4 linked regions of the Homo sapiens genome follow. The protein of the gene in region 2 binds, or shares a complex with, the protein of the main gene of each other region. Each region holds a gene or a part of one and is shown on either strand. Other genes may lie near its edges. The genes, in order: MYBL2, RBL2, TFDP1 and LIN9.

What was found.
Region 1: RBL2 (region 2) and MYBL2 share a complex: the UniProt entries of both Homo sapiens proteins name them as parts of the DREAM complex.
Region 3: RBL2 (region 2) and TFDP1 share a complex: the UniProt entries of both Homo sapiens proteins name them as parts of the DREAM complex.
Region 4: RBL2 (region 2) and LIN9 share a complex: the UniProt entries of both Homo sapiens proteins name them as parts of the DREAM complex.

The regions. Positions count from the first base shown.
Region 1 is NC_000020.11:43,662,522-43,670,314, forward strand, and holds the start of MYBL2 (myb-related protein B), read left to right. Parts: upstream 1-4,592; 5' UTR 4,593-4,762; coding exon 4,763-4,782; intron 4,783-7,793. UniProt on the Homo sapiens protein: Transcription factor involved in the regulation of cell survival, proliferation, and differentiation. Transactivates the expression of the CLU gene.
Region 2 is NC_000016.10:53,465,471-53,472,935, reverse strand, and holds part of RBL2 (retinoblastoma-like protein 2), read right to left. Parts: coding exon 7,334-7,465; intron 5,879-7,333; coding exon 5,767-5,878; intron 3,021-5,766; coding exon 2,751-3,020; intron 2,554-2,750; coding exon 2,273-2,553; intron 2,191-2,272; coding exon 2,014-2,190; intron 1-2,013. UniProt on the Homo sapiens protein: Key regulator of entry into cell division. Directly involved in heterochromatin formation by maintaining overall chromatin structure and, in particular, that of constitutive heterochromatin by stabilizing histone methylation.
Region 3 is NC_000013.11:113,622,362-113,629,826, reverse strand, and holds part of TFDP1 (transcription factor Dp-1), read right to left. Parts: intron 6,648-7,465; coding exon 6,541-6,647; intron 6,535-6,540; exon of another isoform or gene 5,066-6,534; coding exon of another isoform or gene 4,820-5,065; intron 4,324-4,819; coding exon of another isoform or gene 3,598-4,323; exon of another isoform or gene 1-3,597. Other genes in the region: uncharacterized protein LOC124903219, read right to left, coding at 3,598-4,323, 4,820-5,065. UniProt on the Homo sapiens protein: Can stimulate E2F-dependent transcription.
Region 4 is NC_000001.11:226,305,869-226,313,937, reverse strand, and holds the start of LIN9 (protein lin-9 homolog), read left to right. Parts: upstream 1-4,798; coding exon 4,799-4,829; exon of another isoform or gene 4,830-5,487; intron 5,488-8,069. UniProt on the Homo sapiens protein: Acts as a tumor suppressor. Inhibits DNA synthesis. Its ability to inhibit oncogenic transformation is mediated through its association with RB1. Plays a role in the expression of genes required for the G1/S transition.

The sequences.
Region 1 (7,793 bases), on a different chromosome or scaffold from region 2:
GCTGGAGTGCAGTGGCACAGTTTGGGCTCACGGCAACCTCCTCCTCCTGGGTTCAAGTGATTCTCATGCCTCATCCTCCTGAGTAGCTGAGACTGCAGGTTTGTGCCACCATGCCCAGGTAATTTTTGTATTTTTAGTAGATATGGGGTTTCACCATGTTGGCCAGGCTGGTCTCAAAGTCCTGACCTCAAAGTAATTTGCCTGCCTTGGCCTTCTAAAGTGCTGGGATTACGGGCATGACCACTGTGCCCAGCCTGAATCTCTTTTGATGACCCATATTTTATGAGATACAATTCAAACTCTAGCATTCCCAGCTTTCTCACTTGAGGTCCAAGCCTTTCTAACTCTCCAGCCCAAATGTTAGCTTTGTAACATTGCATCCACTCAATTTAAATGGAATGTGTAGAACCCCTTCCATGAGTACCTACCAGAAGCCAAGCTATAGTAAAGGTCTGAAGCTTAAAATGTGCACAGGCTGTCCTTTCTCTTGAGAGAGAAATAAAATGGTGGAGGAAGTGTGATGAGGACAAGAATGATAAGGAGGATGCTCTGGAGGTGGAGGGGGAAGACTCCAGCCAGAAGGGCCATGTGATTCTACTTATCATCAATTAGTGTTTGGTGTCCAAGCTGGTGCTGAGCCCTGAGCATTTAATAAATTGATTTGACCCTTATCTTCCCAACACAGGGTCAGGCCTGGGGGTTGGGGCAAATTGTGGAATAACCAAATACCTGGAGCCTCCCTGTCCAAGGAGGGCGTGTTCAGGAAAAGTTTCCCAGCAGAGATAAATTCTGTATGTTACTAGTCCAGAGTCCAGGGACCACTCCCAGGTGTGGTTTCACTCGGGACACTGGGAATCCTCTCTCCAGGGGATATCTGTTGGTATGATGATAACTGGAGAGGAAATGTGTGGAGATCATCAGATTCCATCTGGCACTAGGGTGATCTCCCTGCTGCCTGACTCACAGCACTGACTCCAGGCTTCTTTGGCTCTGGGGCATTGGTTAACTGGCCCCAGTTCCAGGTTGCAAGTGCACTCTGCAGCTGTTCCCTGCCTCTTGCTTTGGGCAGATACCTTGCCCAAGCTGTCAGGTCCTGCCTCTCCCTGAAATGGGATGACTAATGTGTGGACCTCAAAGGATAAGAGTGAGGGCAGCTGAAGAATTACAGTAGTAATAATAGCTAACAGTAATATAGTTCTTTTTTTGCTGGGCGCGGTGGCTCACGCCTGTAATCCTAGCACTTTGGGAGGCCGAGGTGGGTGGATTGCCTGAGATCAGGAGTTTGAGACCAGCCTGGGGAACATGGTGAAACCCCGATCTCTATTAAAATACAAAAAATTAGCCAGGCGTGGCGGAGTGCTTCTGTAACCCCAGCTACTCGGGAGGCTGGGGTTATTGAGACGGAGTCTTGCTCTGTTGCCAAGGCTGGAGTGCAGTGGCACGATCTCAGCTCACTGCAACCTCCGCCTCCAGGTTCAAGTGATTCTCCTGCCTCAGCCTCCTGAGTAGCTGGAGTTACAGGTGCATGCCGCCACGCCCGGCTAATATTTTATATTTTTAGTAGAGATGGGGTTTCACCATGTTGGCCAAGCTGGTCTCAAACTCCTGACCTTAGGTGACTCACTCGCCTCAGCTTCCCAAACTGCTGGGATTACAGGCATGAGCCACTGTGCCCGGCCAATATAGCTCTCATTATGTGCCAGGAACTGTTTTTGGTGCTTTACACATATTAATTTATTTAATCCTATAATTACCTACAAAGTATAGTGATTAAGAGCATAGACTCTAGAACTAGACAGGCCAGGTTTGAATCCCTGCTCTGCCATTTACTAGCACTGTGACCTTGGGGAAGTCTGTGCCTCAGTTTTCCCATCTGCTAAAAGAGGATAATCCCAGTATCTACCTCATAGAGTTGTTACAAGGATTAAATGAGTTACAATTTATAAACAGAATGCTGGCTGGAAATATTAGCTGGGCATGGCGGCGTGCTCCTGTAACCCCAGTTACTTGGGAGGCTGATAGTTTAAAAACTATCTAAAATTTTGATAAATCCCATTTTTCCAGGTGAGAAAACTGAGGCACAGAAGAGTTAGGTAATTGGCTGGGCATGATGGCTCATGCCTGTAATCCCAGCACTTTGGGAGTCTGAGTCGGGTAGATCACCTGAGGTCAGAAGTTCAAGACCAGCCTGGCCAACATGATGAAAACCCATCTCTACAAAAATACAAAAAATAGCCAGGCATGCTGGCGCATTCCTGTAGTCCTAGCTACTCGAGAGGCTGAGGTGGGAGAATCATTTGAATCCGGGAAGTGGGGGTTGCAGTGAGCCAAGATCACACCACTGCACTCCAGTCTGGGCAATAAAGCAAGACTTGGTCTAAAAAAAAAAAAAAAGTTAAGTAATTTGCCTAAGATACCGCAACTGAATGGTGGAGCTGGGACTCAAACCCCAGGAAGTTTGGCTGTGGAGGCTGTGCTTTCAATGAAGTGGGCATGTCCACATTAATTACTTTATAAGGGGAGTGGGCGGGAGAAACCCTGAATTAAGTGATGTGGAAGCTTCTAGCACTTAAGATGTGAGTTAGTCTTCCTTCTGTGGTAAGTGAAGTTTGCAGCAGCTGGTGGCTGGACTGTCCCCAGGTGGCCAGCAGCTTCTGGAAGGGGGCTCTGAGGCCTGAACAGGGGCTAAAAGGCTGGGGTTTGATTTGGTTTCTTCAGCGTCCTGTCTCAGAGCTCATTTATCTTCCTCTCAGCACTGCTCCCAGGAAGTCCAGTGTGACTTGATCCTTGGTACTTGGTAAATGTCAATCTAATATAGAAAACCTTTGCTAAATCTCAAGGAAAGACAGTCTCACTGTCTGTCGCCCAGGCTGGAGTGCAGTGGCGGGATGACAAGGGCTTGAGCCCCTCGAACTCCTGGGCTCAAGCAATCCTCCTGCCTCTGCTTCCCAAGTAGCTGGGATTACAGGCATTCACCACCACAGCCAGGTAATTTCTTAATTTTTTGTAAAGACAGGGTCTCACTCTGATCCCCAGGCTGGTCTCAAACTTTTGGACTGAATCAGTTCTCCCACCTCGGCCTCCCAAACTGCTAGGATTACTGGCATGAGCCACTAAATCTGGGCTAATCTCTGGGAGTTTAAACCCAAGGTAAACAATTCAATGCAACAAACCTTTGCCTGGGGCTTCTTATGTCAGGTCTTCTACTGGGCCCTGGAGATACTGGTGTGCATTGAGAGGCCACCTGGACCTCAGGATGCTCCCAGTTCAAAGGGGGAAATGCAGAAGTCTACAGGCAGATTGTGGGCAGTGGACCCCAAATTAAATAGGAATCAGCCACGTGGGAGGGGCAGGAAGTGTTCCTGCCCTGGGTAATGGCTCAGGCAAAGGCAAAGAGGCCGTTTCTTTTGGCCAGGGCTGGGTGGTGGTCTGGAAGATCAGATAAATGTGATTGTGGAGTAAGGAATTTACCCTGAGGGAGAGGAGGATGGTTTTAAATTCTGGAAAGAGCTCACGCCTGCAATCCCAGCACTTTGGGAGGACAAAGCGGCAGGATCTCTTGAGCCCAGGAGTTTCTAGACCAGTCTAGGCAACAGCAACATAGCAAGACACCCCCTTCTCTTAAAAAAAAAAAAAAAAGCGCAGTGGCTCACTCCTGTAATTCCAGCACTTTGGGAGGCCGAGGCGGGCGGATCACGAGGTCAGGAGACCTATACCATCCTGGCCAACATGGTGAAACCTCGTCTCTACTAAAATACTAAAAAAAAAAAAAAAAAAAAAAAAAAATTGCCGGGCGTGGTGGTGTGCGCCTGTAGTTCCAGCTACTTGGGAGGCTGAGGCGGGGGAGTCGCTTGAACCCGGGAGGTGGAGGTTGCAGTGAGTCAAGATCGCGCCACTGCACTCCAGCCTGGCGACAAAGCGAGACACCGTCTCAAAAAAAAAAAAAAAAAAAATCAGCCGGGTGTAGTGGCGAGTGCCTGGTCTTAGCTACCCGTGAGTTGAGGTAGGAGGATCGCTTGAGCCTAGGAGGTGGAGGTTGCAGTGAGCTATGATCGCGAAACTGCACTCCAGCCTGGGCGACAGAGCAAGACCCTGCCTCTAAGAAAAATGAACAACAAAAAATAAAGTCTATTAAGGAGGGTCTCTTGGAGGCAGGAGAGGAAGCAGGGAGAGGCACAGGTAGGGTGAGGAGCCGCTTTAGGGTGCGGCTCTAGGGACCCAGTAGTGGCTTGGACTAGCGTGGGGGATTCCGCCCTGGCGCTTTCCCTGGCTGGCTCTCCCATGCTCGCGCCTCGCTCCCCTTCCTCGGTCTTCGCTATGTGGGATACTCCTGGGCCGCCCCGGACTGACACGTGAGCCAGGCCTCGGTCACATCCCGGCCCGCTCCACAACTCCGAAGTAGCGGCCGCCGCCCCTGTCCTGCAGCCGGCCCTGGAGGGTCTGGGCAGGTGCCGCCCCGCAGGCCCCGCCCCGCCCCGCCCCCTGGCTCCGCCCCTCACTCAGGCCCCTCCCCCGGCGCCCGCGCGCCAGGACTGGGCGGCGCCGACGCGCTTGGCGGGAGATAGAAAAGTGCTTCAACCCGCGCCGGCGGCGACTGCAGTTCCTGCGAGCGAGGAGCGCGGGACCTGCTGACACGCTGACGCCTTCGAGCGCGGCCCGGGGCCCGGAGCGGCCGGAGCAGCCCGGGTCCTGACCCCGGCCCGGCTCCCGCTCCGGGCTCTGCCGGCGGGCGGGCGAGCGCGGCGCGGTCCGGGCCGGGGGGATGTCTCGGCGGACGCGCTGGTGAGACGAGCCGGGAGGGCTTGGGCCCCTCCCCCTCCCTTTAACTCACCCCTCCCCCACCCAGATACCCCCGACCCTCCCCAGGCTCCCACCAAGCTGGGGTGTGTGTGTGTGTTGGGGGTGGGGTGTTTCCGCGGAAATGCTGCGTCCTGGGCCCTCTGAGGCAGGGGCGCGCGTAAAGCTGGGGGGCTCTTGGGCGTCCCTCGCGGCTCCCCAGGCCTGTTGGGCCTCGGAGCTGGGACGGGCGGGTCTCTTGGGACCCGGGCCAAGCCGTGCATGATGTCATTTTGTCTCCCGCCTAATTGCGGGATGGGGGTGGGCCGGCCGGTGTCAGCTGGCAGGGCCTTCGCCGGCGAGGGAGGCGACCCCTGGGAGCGAGAGGGAGTCTTCAAGTCCCAGCCAGTGGGAGACCGAGCCTGGGAGGCACTTGTTGCAGCCTAGTTTTGGGTCAACTTGGTGGGTGGGCTTTGCTCCTTAACATTCCGGGGAGCACAGAGTCCCCCAAGCCCTCTCCCCTGGACTGAGAAGGGTGCTGAGTTGGGGGCTCTTTTGTCTCTCCCACCTGGGTTCCGCGCCCCAGCTTGGTTCGGTTTGAGACCTCTCTTCCTGTTCCCACGAGGAGTTTTGGGCAGCTGGGGTTGAAGGTGCGGGGGAGAGAGAGAGTCCCTGGGGCAAAGGCAGGAACTGCGGTCTCCATTTTACTTATTTCCCCAGAGACTTAAGTGGCAGAGCTGAGCCCGGAGCCAGGTCTGTGGCTCCAGATCCCTGTCTTACACCTGTGCGCCTGGGGCCTGAGCTCCAAGCTTTTCAGCCTGCCTGGGAGACAGGACAGTGGGGTCCTGACCTCTTCCCTGCCTGGATCGCTGCAGCTCAGATAACCTTCGTTCCCTCTTTTTTTTTTTTTTTTTTTTTTTTGAGAAGGAGTCTCGCTCTGATGCCCAGGCTGGAGTGCAGTGGCGCGATCTTGGCTCACTGCAACCTCCGCCTCCCAGGTTCAAGCGATTCTCCTGCCTCAGCTTCCCGAGTAGCTGGGACTTCAGGCACGTGTCACCACGTCGGGCTAATTTTTTGTATGTTTAGTAGAGACAGGGTTTCACCATGTTAGCCAGGATGGTCTCGATCTCCTGACCTTGTGTTCCGCCCGACTCGGCCTCCCAAAGTGCTGGGATTACAGGCGTGAGCCACCTTGCCCGGCCAAACTTCGGTCCCTCTTTAGACGATAGCCTCATCTAAAGATGAAGCCTTCCATCCCTCTAGATTTTTGCCCTTTCAGGCTGAGGATAGGGATCTGAGCACAGGGACTGTGTTCCTCAGGCCCCACTTTCCCAGGCCAATGTCCAGGAAGAGTTTTCTGTTCAGGCGCCTATCAGACCCTGCCCTGGTTTTTTTTTTTTTTTTTTTTGAGGCAGGGTCTCCGTCTGCAGTCCAGGCCGGAGTGCTGTGGTGCTGTCATAGCTCACTGTAGCCCCAACCTCCCAGGTTCAAGTGATCTTCCCAACTCAGCCCGCTGGGACTGCAGGCTGAGTAGCTGGGACTATGGGCACGGGCCGCCACAACTGGCTAATTTATTTAATTATTTAGGAGACAGAGCCACTCTGTGTTGCCCAGGCTGGAGTGCAGTGGCACAATCTCGGCTCACTGCAGCCTCTGCCTCCCGGGTTCAAGGAATTCTGTCTCAGCCTCCCAAGTACCTGGGACTATGGGCACACGCCGCCACGCCTGGCTAATTTTTTGGATTTTTAGTAGAGATGGGTTTCACTGTGTTGCTCAGGCAATCCGCCTGCCTTGGCCTCACAGAGTGCTAGGATTACAGGCGTGAGCCACCGCGTCTGGCGTGTTTTATTTTGTGTAGAGATGGAAGGGGGCGGGAGTGGCCTCGCGTTGTGTCTCACCTCACTATGTTACCCAGGCTGGTCTCGAACTCCTGGCTTCCAGGGATTCTCCCCCACTTGGCCTCCCAAAGTGTCGGGATTACAGGTGTGAGCCACCTTGCCTGGCGCCATCCTGATTTTTTGTTCAGGAAGAGTTATTCCAGGAGTGACTGCCTCTAGACCACCCCAGGTCCTGGGCTACTTCTCCCATGAGGGGCTCAGTGGAGGAACCCCTCCTGTGTGAAGGATGGCAGCTCCACAGCCCTCAGCCCATTTCCTGGCCACTTGCTGTAACTCTCCTCTGCCCTAGTGCCCCACTTCCCGCTTTGTCTCTGACTCACCCCTGTCCTGGAGCAGAGCCCAGCACGTTGAAGGGCAAAAGGTAGGGTATGTTGGACCACAATGTGGTTGCCACCACTAACTGGACTCTGCTTTTTCAGCTGGGATTAGGATATGAGGACTTGCAGGTGTCTGGAGTTAGGAAGGTTCAGAGCCTGGCTCTATGAACTTGGCAGGTGGCCTCACCCCTCTGAGCCTCAATTTCCGCATCTGTTAAGGGGGATAATGAGAATGTGGGTGAAGTTGATGGCCAGCACATATGGTAAAGTATATCATCTCACAGAAATGCCCCAGCTGTCTGAGATGCTGACCCTATCAAACAGCATTGGAGGCTGGGTGTGGTAGCTCATGCCTGTAATCCCAGCACTTTGGGAGGCCAAGAGTTCAAGACCAGCTTGACCAATATGGTGAAACTCCTCGTCTCTACCAAAAATACAAAAATTAGCCGGGCGTGGTGGTAGGCGCCTGTAAGCGCGGCTATTCGGGAGGCTGAGGCAGGAGAATTCACTTGAACCCAGGAGGCAGAGGTTGCTGTGAGTCGAGATCATGCCACTGCACTTCAGCCTGGGTGACAAAGCGAGACTCTATCTCAAAATAAACAAACAAACAAACAAACAGCATTGGAGCACCAGGGAGTGTCCATGCAGACATCATTTCATCCTTGAAAGAATATTTGCTGACCTTCTGTTAGAAGCCAGGCCTTTGTGCTGGATGCTGGAGAAGCAAAGATGGTTTCTGTCACGAGCTGTCTGGGGGCAGTTGATTTTAAAGCCAACTTCATTCTGTTATTAGTATCTTCTG
Region 2 (7,465 bases):
GCTGAGACAACTGCACAACCACATAATCAGAATGGAAATGGACTGCTACCTCATACCATACACAAAAATTACTCAAAATTGATCAAAGACCTAACTATGAGATAAAACTATAAAAATCAAAAGACCTTGGGTTTGGTAATGGATTCTTAGGACACCCAAAGTGCAAGTAACAAACCAAAAAACAGGTAACTGGACTTCATCAAAATTAAAAACTTTTATGCTTCAAATGACACTATCGAGTAAGTGAAAAGATACACCGAATGGGAGAAAATATTTGCAAATCATACATCTGAGAAGGTAGTTGTATCCAAAATAAAGAATTCCAACAACTCAATAATAACATAATTTTAAAATGGGCAAAGGATTTAAAGATATTTCTCCAAATAAGATATGCAAATGGCCAGTAAGCACATGAAAAGATGCTTGACATCCTTAGTTATCAGGCAAATGAAAATCAAAACCACAATGATATATCACCCAATACCCGCTAAGATGGCTATAATAAAAATAATAAGTTGGCAAGGATGTGGAGAAACTGGAACTCTTGTGCATTACTGGTAGCAATGTCAAATGGTGCAGCTTCTGTGGAAAATGGTACGGTGGTTCTTCAAAAAAGTTAAACATAGTATCACCATATGACCCTGCAGTTCCACTCCTAGGAATAAACTCAAAAGGACTGAAAATGGGCACTCAAACAGGTACATGATATACCTGTTCACAACAGTGCTATTCACTATAGCCAACAGTTGGAAACAGCCCAAATATCCATCAGTGTATGAGTGGAGAAAAAAATTGTGCCTATCCATACAATGGAATATCATTCAGTCATAAAAAGGAATGAAGTACTGATACATGCTGCAACATGGGTAAACCTGGAAAATATTATCCTAAGTAAAAGGAGCCATACACAAGAGGTCACATATTGTACCATTTCTATAAACGATTAAGAACAGATAAATCCATACAGCCAGAATGCCAACTGCTGGTTGCCAGGTGCTGTGGGAGGTAGAATGGGGAGAAACTACTTAATAGGAAAGGAGTTTTACTTTGCAGGTACGGAAATGTTCTGGAACTAGACAGAGGTGGTGAGTATACAACCATTTATTACACTTAGTACTGTAAATGTGCTAAATGCTCCTAAATTGTTCAACTTAAAATAGTTAATTTGGCTGGGCCCAGTGGCTCATGCCTGTAATCCCAGCACTTTGGGAGGCCGAGGTGGGCAGATCACCTGAGGTCAGGAGTTTGAGACCTGCCTGGCCAACATGGTCAAACCCCATCTCTACTAAAAATGCAAAAATTAGCCAGGCATGGTGGCACATGGCTGTAATCCCAGCTACTCGGGAGGCTACGACAGGAGAATCGCTTGAACCTGGGAGGCAGAGGTTGCAGTGAGCTGAGATGCACCACTGCACTCCAGCCTGGGTGACAAGAATGAAACAACATCTCAAAAAAAAAAAGAAAAACCCAATTAATTTTATGTTATGTGAATTTCTCCTCAATAAGTTATTTAAACAAAGTAAGATAGTAAGTGTTAATGAGATAGTGGAGAAACTAAAATCTTTATTATACTGCTGTGTAAGTGTAAAATGGTACAGTACTTTGGAAAACAATCTAGCAATTCCCTAAATAGTTAAAACACAGTTAATGTATGACCCAGCAGCCCATTCCTAGGTATATACCCTAGAGAAATGAAAATACATGTCTATACAAAAACCCAAACACAAATGCTAATAGTGGTATTATGCATATATGCCAAAAGTAGAAACAACTAAAATATACATTAGCTAATAAATGGATAAAAATACTCTCATATAACTATACAATGGAATATTATGTTCTAAAATTGTGGTGAGTATTGCACATATCTGTGAATATACTAAGACCCATTTAGTTGTGCATTTTAAATAGGTGAATTATAGAGCATGTAAACTGTATCTCAAGACAGTGGTTAAAAAATGTTCTCAGTAATGAAGACCTATCTTTGCCTTTACAATTCCAAATGGTACTCACCTTTGCCATCACATAAATGGCACACATTAATAACTGGTCCAGATGTCTGTCCATCATAAGTTCAGGACACTGAATTATGGAGAATTCAAAGCAGGTCCAGATTTTTTTCCTCAATTCATCTGAAATATCTAGTTTGGCACAGAGATCCCGAAGGCGGACAGCTGCTAAATGGTATACCTAGGAGATAAAAACATTTCAAACTTTGTTTAACACTTGTATTTCCCAAGCTCATGCTCTGATAAGGTATGTGAAAAATTACCTTTCTAAAGAAAAGCGATAAAGAGCTGGTCTTCCTGGGTCTATTACTACTGCTGGTTACAGACTGGCCTTGCTTCTGCTGTTGGCCACCTGGGGAAATCTGTTGAATGGCCACTTGACCAGGGACTTGCAAAGTTGTTCCTGTCACCTGTTGAGAGCTCAGACTTCCAGCCAGGGCCTGAGCACTGAGGGGCTGGATGGAGCCTGTCACAGCTTGTGCCTGCCCCCCAACATTGACTTGGACAGGGAAGAATGTTATCCCTCCATTTTCATTGGCAATACCTAGTGACAGAGAAAAAAAGCATGAAGAAAATGTTGATAATAAGAGGTTCTCCGGGCAGAGGTTTACAATTTCTGCTCTCCCAAACCCTCTCTCCCCATCACTCCTCTGTCCCCTATGTCACTCTAGCCAAACCTCGGGTAACTTTTCAATACATGCCACAGAGAAGGAACTCAATATCCAACTCTGCCTTCCTTACCTTGCACAGGAATGGTTACCGTTTGCCCATTGTTGGCTGTGACAGTGGCGGTTGCCATGGTGACCAAAGTCTGTCCAGGAACTGGTGTGACAGAAACAGTCTCCCCAGATACATTCTGCACAGGGACAGCATTGACTAGGGGCTGTGGGGGCATGCGCCCAGGCGTCCCTCCATCAGAGGGGCTATCATTCTCAACAAATAGCCGCCTTCTGGTAGTGCTGGCTGGTGGGGAGCTGTACCTATCGTATAATGTGGTTGGAGATGTTATGCCTAGGGTCAAAACAAATCAAACAAAGCATTTAACTCAAGGAGACTCAGATCTGACTTCCGTCCAAGCTCTTATGTTAAAAAATAACTACAGTGTTTGAAATACTTCATAATTCAAAAAGCAAACAAGAATTACAGAAGTCATATCTTACCTATATTCATTAGTGAACTTTCATTCGTGTTCAGTGAACACTACTGAGAGCAAAATTTTAAAACGGAATTTTTTGTCTTGCAGTGTTCCTTTCTCCACGCCCCCTTTCCCAAATCAGACCTGACTCTGTCTTCCACTACTAAAGAACCTTCATGATTTAGGGGCAATTTAAGGAATTACCCTATTTTTCTATATTATATTTTTCTATAATATTTTCTATCATATCCACTTTCTACCTACCACTCATGTAAGATGTGATTTTACTACAGAGCCACTACTTGATAAGGGGACCTGATTGGTAGTATGTCATCTAGGAGCATTCCGCCACCGGTTTTATCAATTTTGATCTCTGTCTTTTTCCACATATAAAAAATTATTAAAACTCAATAATGTTCTTAAGCAAGGTGGACATGCATGATTTGGATTCAGTTAAGCATAATTTATTTTTTTAAAACAGTTTATATACCATAAATTTCATCTACTTAAATTATACAATTCAATGGTTTGGGGCAAATTGTTACTATTTTTTTTATTTTTTGAGACAGAGTCTTACTCTATCACCCAGGCTGGAGTGCAGTAGCCTGATCTCGGCTCACTACAACCTCTGCCTCCTGGGTTTAAGTGATTCTTGTGCCTCAGCCTCCCAAGTAACTGGGATTAGAGGCATATGCCACAAGGCATGGCTAATTTTTGTATTTTTAGTAGAGATGAGGTCTCACCATGTTGGCCAGGCTGGTCTCGAACTCCTGACCTCAGGTGATCCACCCGCCTTGGCCTCCCAAAATGCTGGTATTACAGGCTAGTTTTTTAAAATTGTGGTTATATATATAACATAAAATTTACCATTCAACCATTTTTAAGTGTATGATTCAGTGGTACACAACCCATTATGGCTTAGTCTATTTTTAAGTATTCACACCAATGTCTGAATTTTTGAGAAGCATTTCTTCCTTCTTCTGTGTCCACTTCTAAGAGCTGTGCATCAGAGTGTTTTTAAAATTTAAAATATACATAGAAAGTTTGTAAGAAGTACTGATAGGAGTAAATCCTAACAAACTGTGGCTTAACATTTCTATTTCCAGATGATACAAAAGTAAATAAACTTACTAGATTTGTATTTGGTACAAAGCTGCAGAATCAGAAAGAATAGATTATGATCATTTTTTCTTATAAAATATCAAGAGATCTCAGGAAAACTGAGAAGTGGTAAGTACAAAGAAAATGAAGTTTAAAGTCAAGTCTTCCTAATCTGTAGATTAGGGAACGGAAAATTCTACAAAAATAGACTAAGAAAGACCAGCTGTCAGATCTTTCAAAAATGAGGACTTTTCATAAGGATCATCCATGTGTATTAAGTATACACTTAGAGTGATTTTTTTGGGGGGGTTGGGGGTAGAGATGGTATCTTGCTATGTTGCCCAGGATGGTCTTGAACTCCGGGGCTCAAGTGATCCTCCCCACTAGGTCTCCCACAGTGCTGGGATTACAGGCATGAGCCACCATGCCCAGCCTAGAGTGAATCCTGACTTTAAAACTGGTATTCCTTCTATAGCCAGTTCTTATCAATTACATTATAAAACTGATCTAGAAATAAGAATATTCTTTTAATTGGATCCAAGGATTTAGAACTCTCTGGATTTACTGAATTGCTCTTTAAAAAAGTAGTTCTATCTCACATATGTAAACTAAAACCTTTCACCTTGCAGATCTTCTAAGCAGCTGCCTAAAAAATACAAACCAGATAGATAGCAAAACTGCCCTTTTCTGTATTTCTTGGGCCAGCACTAATGTCACATTAACTAGGGTAGCACAGCTCAACAAAGTGGAACATACTCAGTTGTCTTAACTCACTGGCTTGTCTATACCTAACTGGATCATGCAGCTCTATCTTTAAGAAGGCTTTTCTATTTCTGATTTTAAAAGTAATATGTATTTGCCTTAAAAATTTTACAGAAATCACCAGGAATTCTATCACCCAACAATGATCTTAACAGTTTGGTTTTTCCATTTCCACTATTTTGTATGCTCATAAATAAACATACACTTTAAAAATAGGGATCATATTAAATATACAGCAGTCAGCCGGGCACGGTGCCTCATGCCTGTAATTCCAGCACTTTGGGAGAACGAGGTAGGCGGATCACTTGAGGTCAGGAGTTCAAGGCCAGCCTGGCCAATATGGCAAAACCCCTTCTCTACTAAAAATACAAAAATTAGCTAGGCGTGGTGGCGCATGCCTGTAGTCCCAGCTACTCAGGAGGCTGAGGCATGAGAATCGCTTGAACCCGGCAGGCAGAGGTTGCAGTGAGCTGAGATTGGGCCACTGCACTCCAGCTTGAGTGACAGAGCAAGACTCTGTCTCAATAAATAAATAAATAAATAAAGCAGTCTATCCTTTTTAAAAGATACCTGTTATATCATGCATTTTCCTGTGTTCTTAGTCTTTAAAGGCCCTTCTTTTAAGTGATCCATGTGGTACAAAAATGCATAGAATATTTTCTTCTATGTATACCCTATTAACTTCACTTGTAGGGTTAGATGAAATTTAAATTTCCAGATAGTAAGCCCCAAAATATTCTCCTAGTATTTTAAACTTACTCCTTCCAAGTCCTCCAGTATCAGCACGAACTTCAGTCACCCTTCTGGGAGTCAAAGGGGAGCCAGCAATGCAAATTTCATCTGCCCTTTCCAGGTTCTGAGGTGGCATGACCTATGAAGAATTGGTTACACAGAATGCCAGTATCCAAAAAAGCACTTTAATTACAAATACAATAGTAATCTAAGGCAGAAAAAGTATCTTAACAATTATTCCATCTAAATAAAATCAGCTGTCTTTCCCATTTTAATAATAAAGTTAAAAAAAAAACTTTTGGCAGTCAAAAAATTCAAAACCTTGTAATTGGATACTAAATATGAGTCAAACTTCATTACTGGTTTGGAGAGTTTGAATATCAACCACTCTAAAGCAGGAGTCCCCAACCCCTGGGCCATGGACCCTGTTAGGAACTGGGCAACATAGCAGGAGGTGAGCAGCAGGCAAGTGAGCATGCGAGCAAAGCTTCATCTGTATTTAAAGCTGCTCCCCATCGCTCACATTGCCGCCTGTGCTGGCCTCCTGTCAGATTAGTGGTGGCATTAGATTCTCACAGGAGTGTGAACCCTATTGTGAACTGCACACATAAGGGATCTAGGTTGCATGCTCCTTATGAGAATCTAATGCCTGCTGATCTGTCACTGTCTCCCACCGCCCCCAGATGGGACCATCTAGTTGCAGGAAAACAAGCTCAGGGCTCCCACTGACTCTACATTTTGGTGAGTTGTATAATTATTTCATTATATATTACCACGTAATAATAATAGAAATAAAGTGTGCAATAAATGTAAGGCAGTTGAATCATCCCAAAATCTCTCCAACCCCCAACCCTGTCCATGGAAAAATTGTCTTCCATGAAACTGGTCCTTGGTGCCAAAAAGGTTGGACCACTGCTCTATGGGAAAGAAACTTGGTAAGGAAATCAAGAAAGAACACTGAATTTTTACTCTGTCACCAAAATCTTAGGACAACCACAAATTATCTGACTCGTTTCCTCTTTGACATGGGGTGAAATGTGACAGGTCACCTACCTTACTTAAGGGTGTATGTCTGCTGCCTAAACCCTGAAGGCTAGGCAGTGAGCCAAGGCCATGGTGCCCAGCCAAGGAACAGGTGTCCCTGAGAACCCCAACATCCCAGAGAAGATCTGAGAAACTACCAAGGAAAACAGTCCCATCGTGCACACACATAGTAGGCAAAGAGCCAGAAAATTAGCTTAAAAGCAGCTTAGCGATGGGAGGTGGCGAGGATCTCTAGAGCTGTCCTGCTGCTACCTAGGAGTACCCTGTATATAAGTCTTTTATTTTTCCCCACCACCTCTGCCTCCTCCATATGTAAGTCTTAATAAACGTTATCTACTTACCAAGCTGGACTTGTCTGAGTCATTCTTTGGTCTCTTGGCACCTTCCCAATTTGTGGGTAGAGAGGGACGTTACAGTCCAAGATTTTTCTCATAACAAGGTGTAATTATAACATATTAAACCTAATTGCCACCCTCCCATCCCCAAAAGGATTATTAATAGATTAGATATTGATGTATTTTTCTCATAAAAAGATGTTATTTTCACAAACCTCTTCACATGTAGGAACTCTGTTTTCATTGTCTCTAATTTTTTCCCAGAGTGGAGACTCTGGTTTCCATGCCAAATGATCTAAGATCTGTTCTTCAATCTGATTAAGGTGTTTTACCACCTCTCTACAAAG
Region 3 (7,465 bases), on a different chromosome or scaffold from region 2:
GCCGCTGTCCTCCAGGCAGGAGCAAACCTACTCACAAAGAGTGGACTTACAACGAGGAACTGACTTACAACGAGGAACTTACAAGGAACATCCCGATAAACCCGCATGAGCTGAAAATACCCTAAGTCGAAATGCACGTCATCCACCTCTCCTACCACACATCACAGCTTAGCCAGCCTACCTTACACGTGCTCAGATCACGCATGTTAGCCCAGTCGGGCAGAAGCATCTCACACAAAGCCCACTCTAGTCAAGTGTGGGTATCCCAGGAGACCCACTGAATACCACACTCAAAATGAAAAATAGGACGGTCGTATGGGCAGTGGAAGCAGTTTCCACTGAATGCATGTTGCTTTTGGACCATCTTAAAGTCAAAATCACAGGTCAAACCCACTGTAAGTTGGGAAGAAGAGAAAGCCAGAGGCAGGTACACACCAGGTGCTCAATGGTGCTCACCAACAACCTTTCCTGGAAGACAGGACTCAGCACCCAGGGGCACCCTGAGAACGAGCCACCAGTGCACTGGGAATGCGTTGTTTACGGAGGCCAGGTCTTACAGGAAGCTCTCCTTACTCTCCTGCTTTAACTGCTCCCTGCGGAAGGCCCCGCGGCATCCGGCCCATGCAGTGCTGGGCAAGGGTGCCTGCACCTTCCTCTGCGTGCCCTGCGTGGCAGCTCCCCTCACTGTGTCTCCGCAGCACTGTCCCTGCTCCTCACCCATCACCTGCTGCTCACCAGCCCTGTGAGCTGAGTCAGCATCACAGGGGCGGCCTGGAGCCAGCCCTCCCAGGAACGAGACAGAGGCTTTGCTCCCGGACCTGGCACAGGTGTGTGCGTTTCCTTCCTGGTGCACAGGAAGCCGGTGAACTCGGGCCGGCCGCCTGTGCCACAGGACGCCTTCCAGTCTCCCATTCAACAGACATGGAGCAGGCCCCCGGCCTCACTTCCCTACACCAGGAGCCACACTCAACAGCCAGAGGAGGCACGGCAACACACTGAAGCCCTGGAGGGCGTGTGTGGGCAGAAGCGCAGGGAAAACAGGAACCAAGGAGGTGCCAAAGGGTGGATGGGACAGTGCCGGGAAGGATAGTTCAGAGCTGGGCCCCTAGGGAAAAAAAGGAGGTATTGGAAGCAGTGGCCACGCTAGCTGGAGTGGTGGGCAGAGACCCTGGAAGGGAGAAGTGGTCACAGCACAATGAGGGGTACTGCCCAAAGCTGGGAGGCTGTGGGTCCCACTCCAACCAGGGCTTTCCAGGAGATCCAGGAGCCTCTGGGAGCAGGAGGCAGGCAGGGGCTGAAAGGCGCCAGGGACACCCACCCCTTAGATTTAACAGCGGCTTCTCTGGAGGATGGGCTCCGCCCTCACGACTCCCTCACCCGCCTCTCGCTGGGGAGCAGGGGAGGTGACCCAGGCCCCACAGGTCATAAGGGGTCTCCCTTCCTACTGTGCTCACGGCTGGAATCCAAGCTGCGCTTCAGAGAAAGTAAATGACATGGCTTCAGACACAGTCTACATGGCTCCAGACACAGTCTTTACACGGCTCCAGACACAGTCTTTACACGGCTTCAGACACAGTCTCTACACGGCTCCAGACAGTCTTTACACGGCTCCAGACAGTCTTTACACGGCTTCAGACACAGTCTTTACACGGCTTCAGACACAGTCTTTACACGGCTCCAGACATAGTCTTTACACAGCTTCAGACACAGTCTTTACACGGCTCCAGACAGTCTTTACACGGCTTCAGACACAGTCTTTCGACTCTAAAGCTTTTGCAGCTTCCACGCCAGCAGTCGTTAGAAAACAGCTCCAGGTGGAAGCATCCCACAGTAGAGGACCTGCCGGAGGTCCACCTTGCCCGAGACCAACCCTCCTCCCCCAGGAGCTCCCCTCCTCACTGGCTGCACAGTGAGCCTTGGTGTTTAAAGCAGCGATCCCCCACCTTTTTGGTATCAGGGACCAGTTTTGTGGAAGACAGTTTTTCCACAGACCGGAGTCGGGGGTAGTTTCGGGAAGAAACTGTCCCACCTCAGATCATCAGGCATTCGATTCTCATACGGAGTGCCACCTAGATCCTGCATGTGCCGTTCACAGTGGGGTTTGCGCTCCTGAGAACCTAATGCTGGGATCTGACAGGAGGCAGGGCTCAGGCGGCTGTGCGGCCAGCTTCCTAACAGGCCCAGGGGTTGGGGACTCCTGATTTAAGGCATCCCTTCTGCCCTAAGTGCACACTTTTTGCACCTTAATTTCACACACTCTAAAAACTGAGATTACGATGTCTCCGTGTAGTGTGACCCCACTCAGACACAGAATCCTAGAGATGGACCAAGGTTAACCGCGGTGTCCAGAGAGACAGGGCCAGTGGCGCAGCTGCAAAGGAAAGGCCACTGCGACCACAGATGCCGACTTCTGGGACACAGGCCTGGGTGGGGGGCTGCTTCTCCCCAGGGGCTCACACAGGCCGCTGCTCCTGCCGGCTGAGCACATATGTCCTCTGTCCCGCACACGTTCCTGTGCGCGTGCTGAGCTCTGCAGCACCACAGGCTTCACAAGCATCCGCACCTCAAAAGACCCTGACCTTGACAAGCCCTGCGCCTGCTGACTGGTGCAGGTCAGAGACCTAAGGACCTCCCCACCGCTTTCACTCACATGCCCGGACTGAGCCCCACCCCTCGTGTCAGAATGAGCCAGTCCAGTTTTTTGTAAACCTCTGGTATATAAAAAGGTTTAAGAAACATTTGCCCTTTGTCAGCTTTAATTCCCATCACTGGGATTTTGCAAAGCACAAAACAGCAATGACAAACTCCACCCGAACAGCTGAATTTAAATCAGGAACTTGACTTTCAGTGACGAAGTTTAAAGCACATCAATAAGATAATCTTCTCATTCGTTTCCCCCCAGTGTATTCACACCGGCAGTAAAGACGAAAGTGGTGCTACAATTATTCACCCAGACAAACTCTGCTATGACACACAGCACCTATAAAATCAAACTTAGAATTCCTAGTCAACTTATAAGCAAACCTATAATCTAATTATCAAGCAAAACAAAAACTGAATTTTTAGCTTTTATCAAAATGGCATTTACTGAAAAGCCGTGATCTGCTGTGCAACGTGGTTGAAAAGCCGTATGACGTGGTAGGGCTTCCACAAACCGCTACTTTCAATGGCCACAAAACTTCTGCAGAGCAAGTTTTTTGTCACCTTCCACAGGCAGGAAACGGGGCCACAAAAGCTGCCTGGGATCTGGAACCGCTCAATCAGGACAGCTGTGTGGGAGCACACACGGGGAGGGGGGCTGCGGGGAAGCGGGGCGCAGGGAAGTGGGACGCGGGGAAGGGAGCGCGGGGAAGGCAATCCTGCTCAGATCCTCAAGGCTGTGACCCACAAGCCACTCTCTCTTAAAACTCATATCCTAACATCTGTTAAAGAATCCAGAGAATTTCAAGCATATTTAAATAAACGGAAATAGCAGGAATGCATATAAAATAAAGACTAAAGTGCAAAAATGACCAAAATATCCCTGGTATGTGGTCATGTTCTCTGAAGAAAACATGATTAGACCAAAGGGAGATGCCCTAGACAACAAAAAACAGCTCAGTACAGAGAGCTCTCCACAGGGCCAGGGACACCTGAGGATGCCTGGGGATCCATGAGAGACACCTGGGGACACCTGAGAGACACCTGAGGACACGTGAGAGACACCTGAGGACACGTGAGAGACACCTGAGAAACACCTGAGGACACGTGAGAGACACCTGAGGACATGTGAGAGACACCTGAGGACGCGTGAGAGACACCTGAGGACACGTGAGAGACACCTGAGGACACGTGAGAGACACCTGAGGACACGTGAGAGACGCCTGAGGACACGTGAGAGACGCCTGAGAAACACCTGAGGACACGTGAGAGACACCTGAGGACATGTGAGAGACACCTGAGGACGCGTGAGAGACACCTGAGGACGCGTGAGAGACACCTGAGGACGCGTGAGACACCTGAGGACGCGTGAGACACCTGAGGACACGTGAGAGACGCCTGAGGACACGTGAGAGACGCCTGAGGACACGTGAGAGACGCCTGAGGACACGTGAGAGACGCCTGAAGACATGTGAGAGACGCCTGAGAGACACCTGAGGACACGTGAGAGACGCCTGAGGACACGTGAGAGACGCCTGAGGACACGTGAGAGACGCCTGAGGACACGTGAGAGACGCCTGAAGACACGTGAGAGACACCTGAGAAACACCTGAGGACACGTGAGAGACACCTGAGGACACGTGAGAGACACCTGAGAAACACCTGAGGACACGTGAGAGACACCTGAGAACACGTGAGAGACACCTGAGAAACACCTGAGGACACGTGAGAGACACCTGAGGACATGTGAGAGACACCTGAGGACACGTGAGAGACACCTGAGGACACGTGAGACGCCTGAGGACACGTGAGAGACGCCTGAGGACACGTGAGAGACGCCTGAGGACACGTGAGAGACGCCTGAGAAACACGTGAGGACACGTGAGAGACACCTGAGGACACGTGAGAGACACCTGAGGACATGTGAGAGATACCCTGAGAGACACCTGGGGACATGTGAGAGACACCTGAGAAACAGCTGAGGACAAGTGAGAGACACCTGAGGACACGTGAGAGACACCTGAGAGACACCTGAGGACACGTGAGAGACACCTGAGAGACACCTGAGGACACGTGAGAGACACCTGAGGACACGTGAGAGACACCTGAGGACACGTGAGAGACACCTGAGGACACGTGAGAGACACCTGAGAAACACCTGAGGACACGTGAGAGACACCTGAGGACACGTGAGAGACACCTGAGGACATGTGAGAGATACCCTGAGAGACACCTGGGGACATGTGAGAGACACCTGAGAAACACCTGAGGACAAGTGAGAGACACCGGAGGACACGTGAGAGACACCTGAGAAACACCTGAGGACACGTGAGAGACACCTGAGAAACACCTGAGGACACGTGAGAGACACCTGAGAAACACCTGAGGACATGTGAGAGATACCCTGAGAGACACCTGAGGACATGTGAGAGATATCCTGAGAGACACCTGAGAGACACGTGAGGACATGTGAGAGATACCCTGAGAGACACCTGAGGACATGTGAGAGATACCCTGAGAGACACCTGAGGACATGTGAGAGACACCCTGAGAGACACCTGAAGACATGTGAGAGATACCCTGAGACACACCTGAGGACATGTGAGAGATACCCTGAGAGACACCTGAGGACACGTGAGAGATACCCTGAGAGACACCTGAGGACACGTGAGAGACACCCTGAGAGACACCTGAGGACACCTGAGAGACACCCTGAGAGACACGTGGGGACATGTGAGAGATACCTGAGGACACCTGAGAGACACGTGAGGACACCTGGGGATGCCTGAGAGATACTTGGGGACACCTGGGGACACGTGAGGATGCCTGGGAGACACCTGAGGACACCCGAGAGACACGTGAGGACACCTGGGTATGCCTGAGAGACACCTGGTGACAGTGAACGGACAGGTTCTCATCCCACCCGGAGGTGTTCAATCCTTTTAAGAGGACTGGGCCACAGCACAGACGGAGCAGGGTGAGGGGGTGGAGTGGGCCAGGAGGCCGGGGTGCAAGAGGTGCTGCATCACCAAAGCCCAGGGTTGGCAGGAACAGGGCTGGGGCAGCTGCCCAGGCGGGGCCACAGCATCATCTCAGGACCAGGAAGGAGCCCTCAGGCACCATAAACAAGTCCCTGAGGAAGGACTGGAAGCCCGGCCTAGCCTTGGGATGGCTATGTCCCTCACCACCAGCTCCAGTCACAGCCAAACCTGCCCACCAAGTGCCTGGGGCCCCATTTCTGGTGAGGTCAGGATTCTGTGTGGGCTCCCTGTCTCCAGTAGGCTGCCACCGGCAAGGACGCAGAGGGCGGACACGAGACAGGAAACAGCATTATGAGAAGCAGCATCAGTTGGCCAGCATCAGCCTGGGGAGGGGGGATGCGCCACTTCCCAATGCCCACCTTCCCCTCTCCTGTGCGTGGCCAAGGGAGCAGCATCTGCCCTGTCACTGCCCCGGGGCAAACGCACAGCCACGGCCAGGGCCCTATCCCTCTCTGGCTTCCCAGCCTGATGTCTCCAGGAGGGCCACAGCCAACGCTCGGCCACATCACGTAAGAAGCCCCTGTTAGATGAAGAGCTTCGAGCTCTGACACTAAAAGGAAGCTGCCTCTGGTTGGGGCCGCGGCCCCACCCACCACCCTCCAGTTACTGGAAGGATGGCATGGGCTGGGGCACACAGGAGTGCTGTGGGCGCCATCACCTCTCCCACAACAACACGTGGGCAGCTGCAGAGGGCTATGGAAAATCTAGCACTGGCCACGGGCTCCCTGATGAGGGAAAGGCCCCATGCTGCAACTGGAGCCCAAATCCAGGCACACCTGGGAACATCCCCAACCACACGGCTCATCCGATCCCGACCTCACACCGAGATCCCGGCTGTCCGCTCCTGCGGGAGGCTTACCACTTGCTGGGCAATGTTGACATTGGACTGTCCAAAGGTTTTTGGCAAGAGCTGCTTCCCGAGCGGGTTGACGGTGGAGGGGTGAACGGCCACGAGGGACACCACGCCTGCAACACAAGGACACCAGGTCAAGGGCGAGACTCCTTTTCTAAGTTAAGGCTACAAGCGACCATTCTAAATGCAAGACGGTGCTTGCAATTAGAGATGCTTAGCTTTCCCCACGTGTACTGTCTCAAATCCAGGGCTCAAGAGCAACACCTCCATGAAGCTTGATTCCCAATGTAAACCCGTAAGGGGAGGGCCGCAGGGCCGCGCTGACGCCACCCAGGTGACCCAGGCAGATCATCCACTGCTCCAGCCCCTCGGCGATGTCTGCTATGGAACGTGCTGGTGGGGACCACGGCCTGGAAAAGTCTGTGATTCTATGACAATTATGGAACAGAATTTTAAAACTAGAATTTTTATCGCAACATTTCTCTATAAGGCTGCAAAACTAGTTTGGAAATCTGATAATCCACTTTTCCTTAGGAAGGAGAACCACATTTGTTCCTAGGAAGGAGTGTGCCTTCCACAGAGGCTGCGGCTCTAAACATGCAGGTGCCCTCAGAACACTGGTGAAGCAAGCGGGAGACCCCTCTGCAGGAGATGTGAAGCCTCTGTCTTCCAACAGCGGTATGCAAAAGGTCCTAGGGACAGGGCGGTGGATAAAAGTCCTGGAACATTTACACATAAACAGAAGTAGTAATGATAAAGTTCAAAAACTGGCATCAGCGGGCAGAGAGAACTAAACAAAGAAACCGTAAACCAGGTGGTAGCGAGCACCCTGGGAAACAAGTTGGGAGGCCTGGGTGGTCAGCACAGCCCGGGAGGGGCGTCAGGGCAACACTGGAAGGGTGGGCGGCCACACAGAGGCAGCAAGGGGCTC
Region 4 (8,069 bases), on a different chromosome or scaffold from region 2:
ATAGCTGAGAAACTGTTGCTTAATCTAAGGTCATGAAGATTTACACCTATGTTTTCTTTTAGGAATTTTTATGGTTTAGCTTTTACATTTAGGTCTTTGGTTCATTATGAGTTTCACATTTGTATTGTATATGATTTTTTAAAAAGCTTTGTTATAGTTTTCATTAGAGTAGTGTAACATACTAAACTCCACTAAACTTGGATGTTATACATAATATCTAGCACATGTAGAGAATTTTATCTTTTATTATCTCAATTTTATGGACATGCATCCTCACATTGTGATCTAGGTAGGGCAGTGTAGTTATATTCACTCCCCAAATGGGAAAGACGAAGGCAGAAAGGTTCAATGACTTGTCCGAGATCATGGTGCTCACTAGAGGTAAAGCAAGGCTTAGAACCCATGTCTTCTGCTCTCACTCCTCACGCCTGTTTCCACTGCTCTGAACATGTTCAGGGAGATGATTCTGAAGGGAATTACCAGGATGGCCACTGGGCACATTTTTGAGAATATTTATGTTGTAAAAGAGGGATTCTCATCAAGGAAGGATACCAACAGTCACTGGAGATCTTGGTAGGCACTTAATTTACAATATGTAATTTAATCTTCATGATAACCCTTCAAGAAAGGGAGAAGAAAACTAAAAACTACTACTGAGAGTAATTTGTTCAAGAATACACACAAGGGAAGTAGGTGAACTGCAATTTGAACCTAGATCCTGGGGCCATCAGTACTCCTGGTGTACTTGGATGCTGGAAGAGGAAATGCTGAGTGTGGAGTCCTACCAGCAACATAACTTAAAAATATATATATTTATAGGCTGGAGAGCCTTTTTACCTCATTATGGCTGAGATACTCAAGCAAGGCAAACTGAATTGTCTTTGTTTTTTCATTACTAACTCAAATTCCCAACTTTATCAAAAGTATTTATAAAAACATTCACACACATACTATACACACACACGCTTTTTTTTTTTTTTTTTTTTTTTTTGAGACGGAGTCTCACCCTGTCACCCAGGCTGGAGTGCAGTGGTGTGATCTCAGCTCACTGCAGTCTTCACCTCCTAGGTTCAAGCAATTCTCCTGCCTCAGCCTTCCAAGTAGCTTGAATTACAGGCACAAGCCACCACGCCTGGCTAGTTTTGTATTTTTAGTAGAGACTGGGTTTCACCATGTTGGTCAGGCTGGTCTCAAACCCCTGATCTCAGGTGCTCAGGCGATCCACCTGCCTCAGCCTCCCAAAGTGCTGGGATTACAGGTGTGAGCCACTGCACCAGGCCCCCAACACACACATTTTATCTTTAGTCATTGCAACTGTTTTCACAAAAATAATCCAACCCAATAATTGATAAATAGGCCACAGGACTAGAAATGGTCAAACCTGGTATTTCTAAAACGTGGCCATGTTTATTTTTCTTATGGTATTTTTAAAATTTTTTAGAATTTTTGTGGGTACATAGTAGGTGGATATATTTATGATGGTACATGAGATGTTTCTTATGGTGTATTTTTATTTAGGTTTTTCATGACTTAATGACCTTATCCACACCGTGGTTTGTTTTTTTTAAAAAGCAAACACCACACACAGTCATGTCATTTTAAATTGGAATAAGTGATTGCAGGAAACTTAATACCCCTGTGTTGCATGTTGCTATGGTTTGAATGATGGTATTCCCTCCAAAATTCAGTTGTAACATAATCCCCAATGCAACAGTATTAAGTGGTGTGGCCTCTGGGAGGTGATTAAGTCATGAGGGTTCTGCTCTCGTGAATGGGGTTAGCACCCTTATGAAAGGGCTCAAGACTGAAGGAGGTGTTCTCTTGCCTTTCTGTCCCTTCTACCATGTGAGGACACAGCATGCATCCCCTCCAGAGGATGGAGCAACGAGCCACCATCTTGGAAACAGAGAGCTGCCCTCACCAGACACCAACATTGGCACCTTGATCTTGGACTTCCCAGCGTTTGAAACTGTGAGAAATAAATTCTTGTTGTCGGCTGGGCACGGTGGCTCATGCCTGTAATCCCAGCACTTTGGGAGGCTGAGGCAGGTAGATCACTTGAGATCAGGAGTTCAAGACCAGCCTGGCCAAACTGGTGAAACCCTGTCTCTACTAAGAACACAAAAATTAGCCAGGAGTGGTGGCAGGCACCTGTAATCCCAGCTACTCTGGAGGCAGAGGCAGGAGAATCGCTTGAACCCAGGAGGCAGAGGTTGCAGTGAGCCGAGATCACACCATTGTACTCCAGCGTGGGTGACAAGAGCAAAACTCCATCTCAAAAAAAAAAAAAAAAATTCTTGTTGTCTATAAATTACCCAGTCTCAGATGTTTTGTTATAGCAGCACAAATGGACAAAGACATACGTGTAATCCTCCCATCACAGAGGGAGTCACTGAGGCACCGAAAAGTGGGCTAGATTCCTGATTCTAGCACTTGCTTGCCATTGTCTTTGGACAAATTACCAGGTTGTTGGGAGAATCAAGTAAGCCAATCATTGTAAAACCTGTCATAAATATTCAATAACGAAACTTATTGAAGAGTTAGGTGTGCCTTGGCTTCGATCACACAGCTAAGCGCTAGATCTGGGGCTAGGATACAGCTTCAGGCTTTGGATTTATGAGAAGAGTCAAAGTTTTTGTTTAAAATGCAGATTATCAGGCAAGGGCCTAAAAACATTGATTTAAACAGTAGTTGTGTTGTTGCGTGTACATGAAAACTGCCTCAGAATAAAACCAGGTTTGCCTTGGTCTAATGACACCTTGACTATCATGACATTCACAAAGCTTTTGCTTCTCCCACTCTGGTAACCTCTCATGTTTTTTTAATTTCTATTCTTCCATTCTTAAAGGGCTGACCTTTTCTTGATCTCATCTCCAAATTGATACTGAAGTGCAAGCTGCTGAAGCACCCCCTAGGTGCTGACAACAAGGACCAGTGTTTTAATCTTCTTAGGGAGCAGATCAGAGTGTGTTTAGAAGGCAAAGGAGAGGTTAAGCTAGCTCTGAAGGAAGGATTACTTTGTAAAATTGAACTTTCACCCTCCCTGCTCACTCCCTGCTCTCCCTCCTACCTTAGCATGGCAGCACCCAGTTACCCAAGGCACAGAGCTGGCATCAGCAATGAGACTTCCTTCTCCTCACACCCAGTGACTCACCCAATCCTTTATTTTCCACGTCTTGAAAGGTGGAGTGCATGCTGCCACCTCTCTCTAATACTGCCTATGCTGTGGTAATGGTGGTAATAGTGGCTAGCTGATGGGTGCTAGCAGCTAGTATAAGGTCCTTACATCTATCAAATCGTTTAGCCCTCAAAATAACCCTGTTATTTGCATTTTACAGATAAGAAACTGAGGCACAGAGAATTCGGTTAAGAAACCAACGTGCCTGAGATTATACAACTAGCAGCCCATCTGGATTCTTCCCATCGAGGCCCTGGGGCTCCAGAGCCCACCCGCTGCACCTCTCTAGCTACCAGTGCAGGCATCTCTCTTCTGTCCTTTGCATGCCCCAAATAAGCTTCTTCCTGACTGGTTTCTAGGCTCTCATCTTGTCCCCCACCAATCCATTTCCCATATTTTTGTTCTAAAACACAAATAGAAACGTGCCCCTCTTACACCCGACTTTTCCACTGCTCCAGTGGACTAAGCAAGTTCAACTCCTTAGCCTGGGCGGGCCTCTGTGTACCACTCTGTCACCTTAGTCTACCGCCTTTTAACTTTGTAGTTCCTGGAATTCACCCACGTTGTCTTTTGACTGCTTAACGGTCTCATTCCTCCAACCCCCATAAATTCCTGGAGAAAAGGATTGGAGCTCAATGACATTCGTTAAATGAATTTTTGAAAAGCAACAGTGTTTTATTACTGGAAAGTGTTACAGACAGATATTGTGAAATTTTTCCTTGGGCTTCTTTCAATTTCGTTCAATTCTCGTCCAGTATTCTCATAACATTTGGATCAGGTACTTTATCACCTTGTAGTGTCACTGTTCCTTTCTGTATCCTCTCGAAGCCTCCTGTTACTCGTTTTCTAATTCTCTTCCAGCCCACTGCACGATCTAGTGTCGAATGGATGAAACAGCTGAGCAGAACAGTTCTTTAGCTGTCGGCCTAAATGACCAACTTCATGACCTCTCAAGGTCTCGCTCCCCGGCTGCACGCAGCTCAGCTTCCAACATTCGGGAAAGGCGTGCCCGGATCGCGAGGGGCCGCTGGGACCGAGTCCCGGACGTCGCGACGCGCAGGGGGCTGCTGCGGCCGGCGGTCTCGGGAAAAGTGAGGGGACGGAGGCGCCCAAGCAACGTGGGTTTCGGGAACTGTGAGTATTTCACTTTGCGTAGAGCCCCCTCGGGCAATGCGACCCAGAACCGAGGGCTTCTTTCCCCCCGCCGGGGCCTCCCTCCCGTTCTCCACTCGGAACAAACAGCCTGCAGTTCCCGCAGCTGCAGCGCGGGCCGCGGAACATGCGCCGGGAGCGGGGCCCGGGCGGGACTCCGGAGCTGGTACTGCTCCCCCCGCGCTCCGGCGCCGGGCCTCGCCGTGCGGCCTCCTTCCTCCCTTCCTCCCGCCCGGCTCGGCCGGAGGCGGCGGCGGAGGGGCGAGGCGCGGCCCCCCTTCGGCGGCACCTCCTCCCCGGGCAGGCGCGGGCGGAGCCGGGCCCGCCTCAGCCAGCCGCGGCGGGAGCAGCGCAGCGCGGCGCCGCGGGCAGCGAGCTCCGCATTCGAACCTCCCTCGCAAAGACAGTCTCCGCCCCACAATGCACCGCGGCGGGCAGCCTTTGAAAAAGCGGCGCGGCTCGTTCAAGATGGCGGAGCTCGACCAGTTGCCTGACGAGAGTGAGTAGCACCTCAAAGCACCCCCCCCTTTTCCCGCCTGCTGCTTGCCCAGCGGTTGCACCGGCCGGGACGGACGGCCGTGCCCTCCGCTGGGCAGGTGGGCTGACTGCCAGCCCCACTGTGGTCCCCTAGTCCTCCCACTCCGGTGTTGCCGCCGCGTCGCCGCCTTTGTTATGGTGTCTGTGTGTTGGTTTCTGGGGTTGTGTGAGCGCCAGGGCCGGAAACCGAGAGCCCGGGAGTCCAGCCTGTGCCAGGCGGAGGCGGTGGCTGCTCCCCTGGCGCCACTCCGGCCCCCAGCCGAGGTGGAGGGAAGAGCGGCCCCTGGGCGCGGGGGCTGTCCTCGCCGCCTGCACCACTCGCCCGGCGCCGAGAGACGCCCGCCGGGGTTATGTAACTCGCCTGTCCCGGGGCCGGGGGAGGGCTCGGGCTGGGCACGGGGTGGTCCACGGCCCCTTCTTCTTGCCCCAGCCTCTGATCTTGTCCTGTCACAGCTCCTGCCTCTACGGGCACTTGTGATCTTCACTGTCCTCCCCACCCCCCCACCGGTGTGTCCACCCCTGGAAGTGTTTCCGTGTCAGAGGGTTGGCCCCTTCCCCTGGGACCACAGGTGGCTGTGGACCTTTCCTGAGATCATCCAGCCCGGATACTCAGTGTTCAGGTAGACCCCGTCCCGCAGACTTTATTCTATATGTGTCTTAAGAGCCATAAAGGTACCTTTATGCATGGATGTGACCAACACAGCGTACGTGTACCCTGCCTGACACCCACCCTAGGGCATTGCCTCCCCTAACCATGTTTACTCACCCTGACATCTAAGACATGTATGCTCACTTGTGTTGAGTAAGTAAAAGCACCAATTCCATAGTTTAAGGGCAATGGAACTTAATTTTGTAATTTACAATATTGCATAAATTATATGAAAAGACAAATATGTTATTTAATTACAAAAAAAAGTCCTGAATCCACTTTCACTATTCAGTTTATACATATTTGTGAAAGGCTCAATTACTATTGAATCTTATCTATGCACAAGGCAAATGGACTTAAAAATGAGGACTCAACATACTACCGATTCCATTTTCTTTGTGAGGTCATGTGTTCTTAGTAAGTTATAAAGTTAAAAATTCAAGTTGCCAAGCTGGTGAAAAGTCGTATTAAAAGTGTTTGTGTTTTAAATTTGATAGAGAGCAGCACTAAGTCCCCAAGGAACTTTGTCCATGATAGAACTGTTCTCTTTTGTGATGTCCAGTAGGGCAGCCAAGCTACTAGCCATATGTAGCCATGGAACATTTCAAATGTGGCTAGAGTGATGGAGGAACTGAATTTTGAATTTTATTTAATTTTAACTTGCATAGTCACATGTAGCTAGTAGTCACTGTATTGGGTAGGGCACAGCTATTGACCAGTCATGAGCTGTACTGTTTATTTGTAGAATACAATTGATTGTGATTTATTTTATTTATTTATTTATTTTGAGATGGAGTTTCACTCATTGCCCAGGCTGGGGTGCAATGGTACTATCTCGGCTCATTGCAACCTCTGCCTCCCAGGTTCAAGCGATTCTCCTACCTCAGCCTCCCGAATAGCTGGGGTTACAGGCATGTGCCACCACGCCTGCCTAATTTTTTTGTATTTTTAGTAGAGATGGGGGTTTCTCCATGTTGGTCAGGCTGGTCTCGAACTCCCGACCTCAGGTGATCCACCCGCCTCGGCCTCCCAAAGTGCTGGGATTACAGGCGTGAGCCACCGCAGCTGGTCTTGATTGTGACTTAGAATGCTCCCAAATGAGTGTGGACCTACTAAGCACAGTGTACTTGTCATCCGAAAATGTTTTTCATCATCCTTGGTATCTTTATCATAAACATGTCTTATCACCTCTTGGATGTCACAATCACTAGAGCTACTGTTTTGGTTACTGTAGTCATTCTGTTGTAATGAGAGGCATTTTAAGTGGCTTTCTTACAACTGCCATTAGGAATATTTGCTTCATATCATCCAGCATTTATTGAGAATTTACTGTGGTTCTTTGTAGGGACTTGGGATTTATATTAGGGTTCAAATTCCAGCTCCACTTTCAAATTATATAACCTAATCATTTATATTACTTTGTGACATCTCTGGTGCATTGGTGTGTATTTGTGAAGCGTATGTCTTGTTTAGGTAGACTTCAGCTTTGTTGAAACCAGGGATTTTCTTTCTTTCTTTGTCATACAGTGCCACAAATCAAGTATACATAAATAATTTTTATGGAATTAGTGCAAAGTAACAGGTATTATTACTGAAACTAGAGCAGGGTCTTGAAAAGGAAAAGCGATTTCAATTTGATACTGGAAATAGCAGTATGTTTTTTGGCCACATTTAGTCAAGGAGGCTAGCTAATATATTGTTCAGGAGTCGATATAACATTATCAATAATGAAAGCTACCATTTATTGAGTATTTACTATGAACCAGATGCCATGCAAAGGATATTACATGTATTTGCTCATTTAATCTTCATTTCAGTTGATGTAAGTGCTCACATTTTATATAAGGAAATTAAGGCTATCTTCAGCCCAGATCTTTCCTGAGCTCCCTTTCTTGATATCTCTTGCCTGTTTCACATTTCTTCTTAGATGCTTCAAAGGCCCCTCAAACTGCACAGGTTTAAAATCCACCTCAGTCCTACCCCAGGACAGATACTTCTAGTGATTCGAATGGTTCCACTGTGCATTCAGCTGGCAGGGCAGAAACCTAGAGATTTTCTTTGGCACTTCCCTCTCTTTCTTTTCTTTTGTTTTTTTTTTGAGACAGAGTCTTGCTGTGTCACCTAGGCTGGAGTGCAGTGTGCGATCTCAGCTCACTGCAGCCTCCGCCTCCCGGGTTCAAGCCATTCTCCTGCCTCGGCCTCCTGAGTAGCTGGGTTTACAGGCGCCCGCCACCACACCTGGCTAATTCTTGTATTTTTAGTAGAGGCGGGGTTTCACCATGTTGGCTAGGCTGGTCTCAAACTCCTGACCTCAGGTGATGCACCCGCCTCAACCTCCCAAAGTGCTGGGATTACAGGGGTGAGCCACCGCGCCCCCAGCCACTTTCCTCCCTTTCACTTCCCATATTTAAGCCTTTACTAAGTCTGTAAATTTTACCTTCTAAATATCTATCAATTCTACCCATTTCTTACCATCAGCATAGCCCAAACTGTTACCATTTCTTCTCTTTACCAATTACCTCAGCCTCTCATTAATTCAGCCCCCTTCCCACA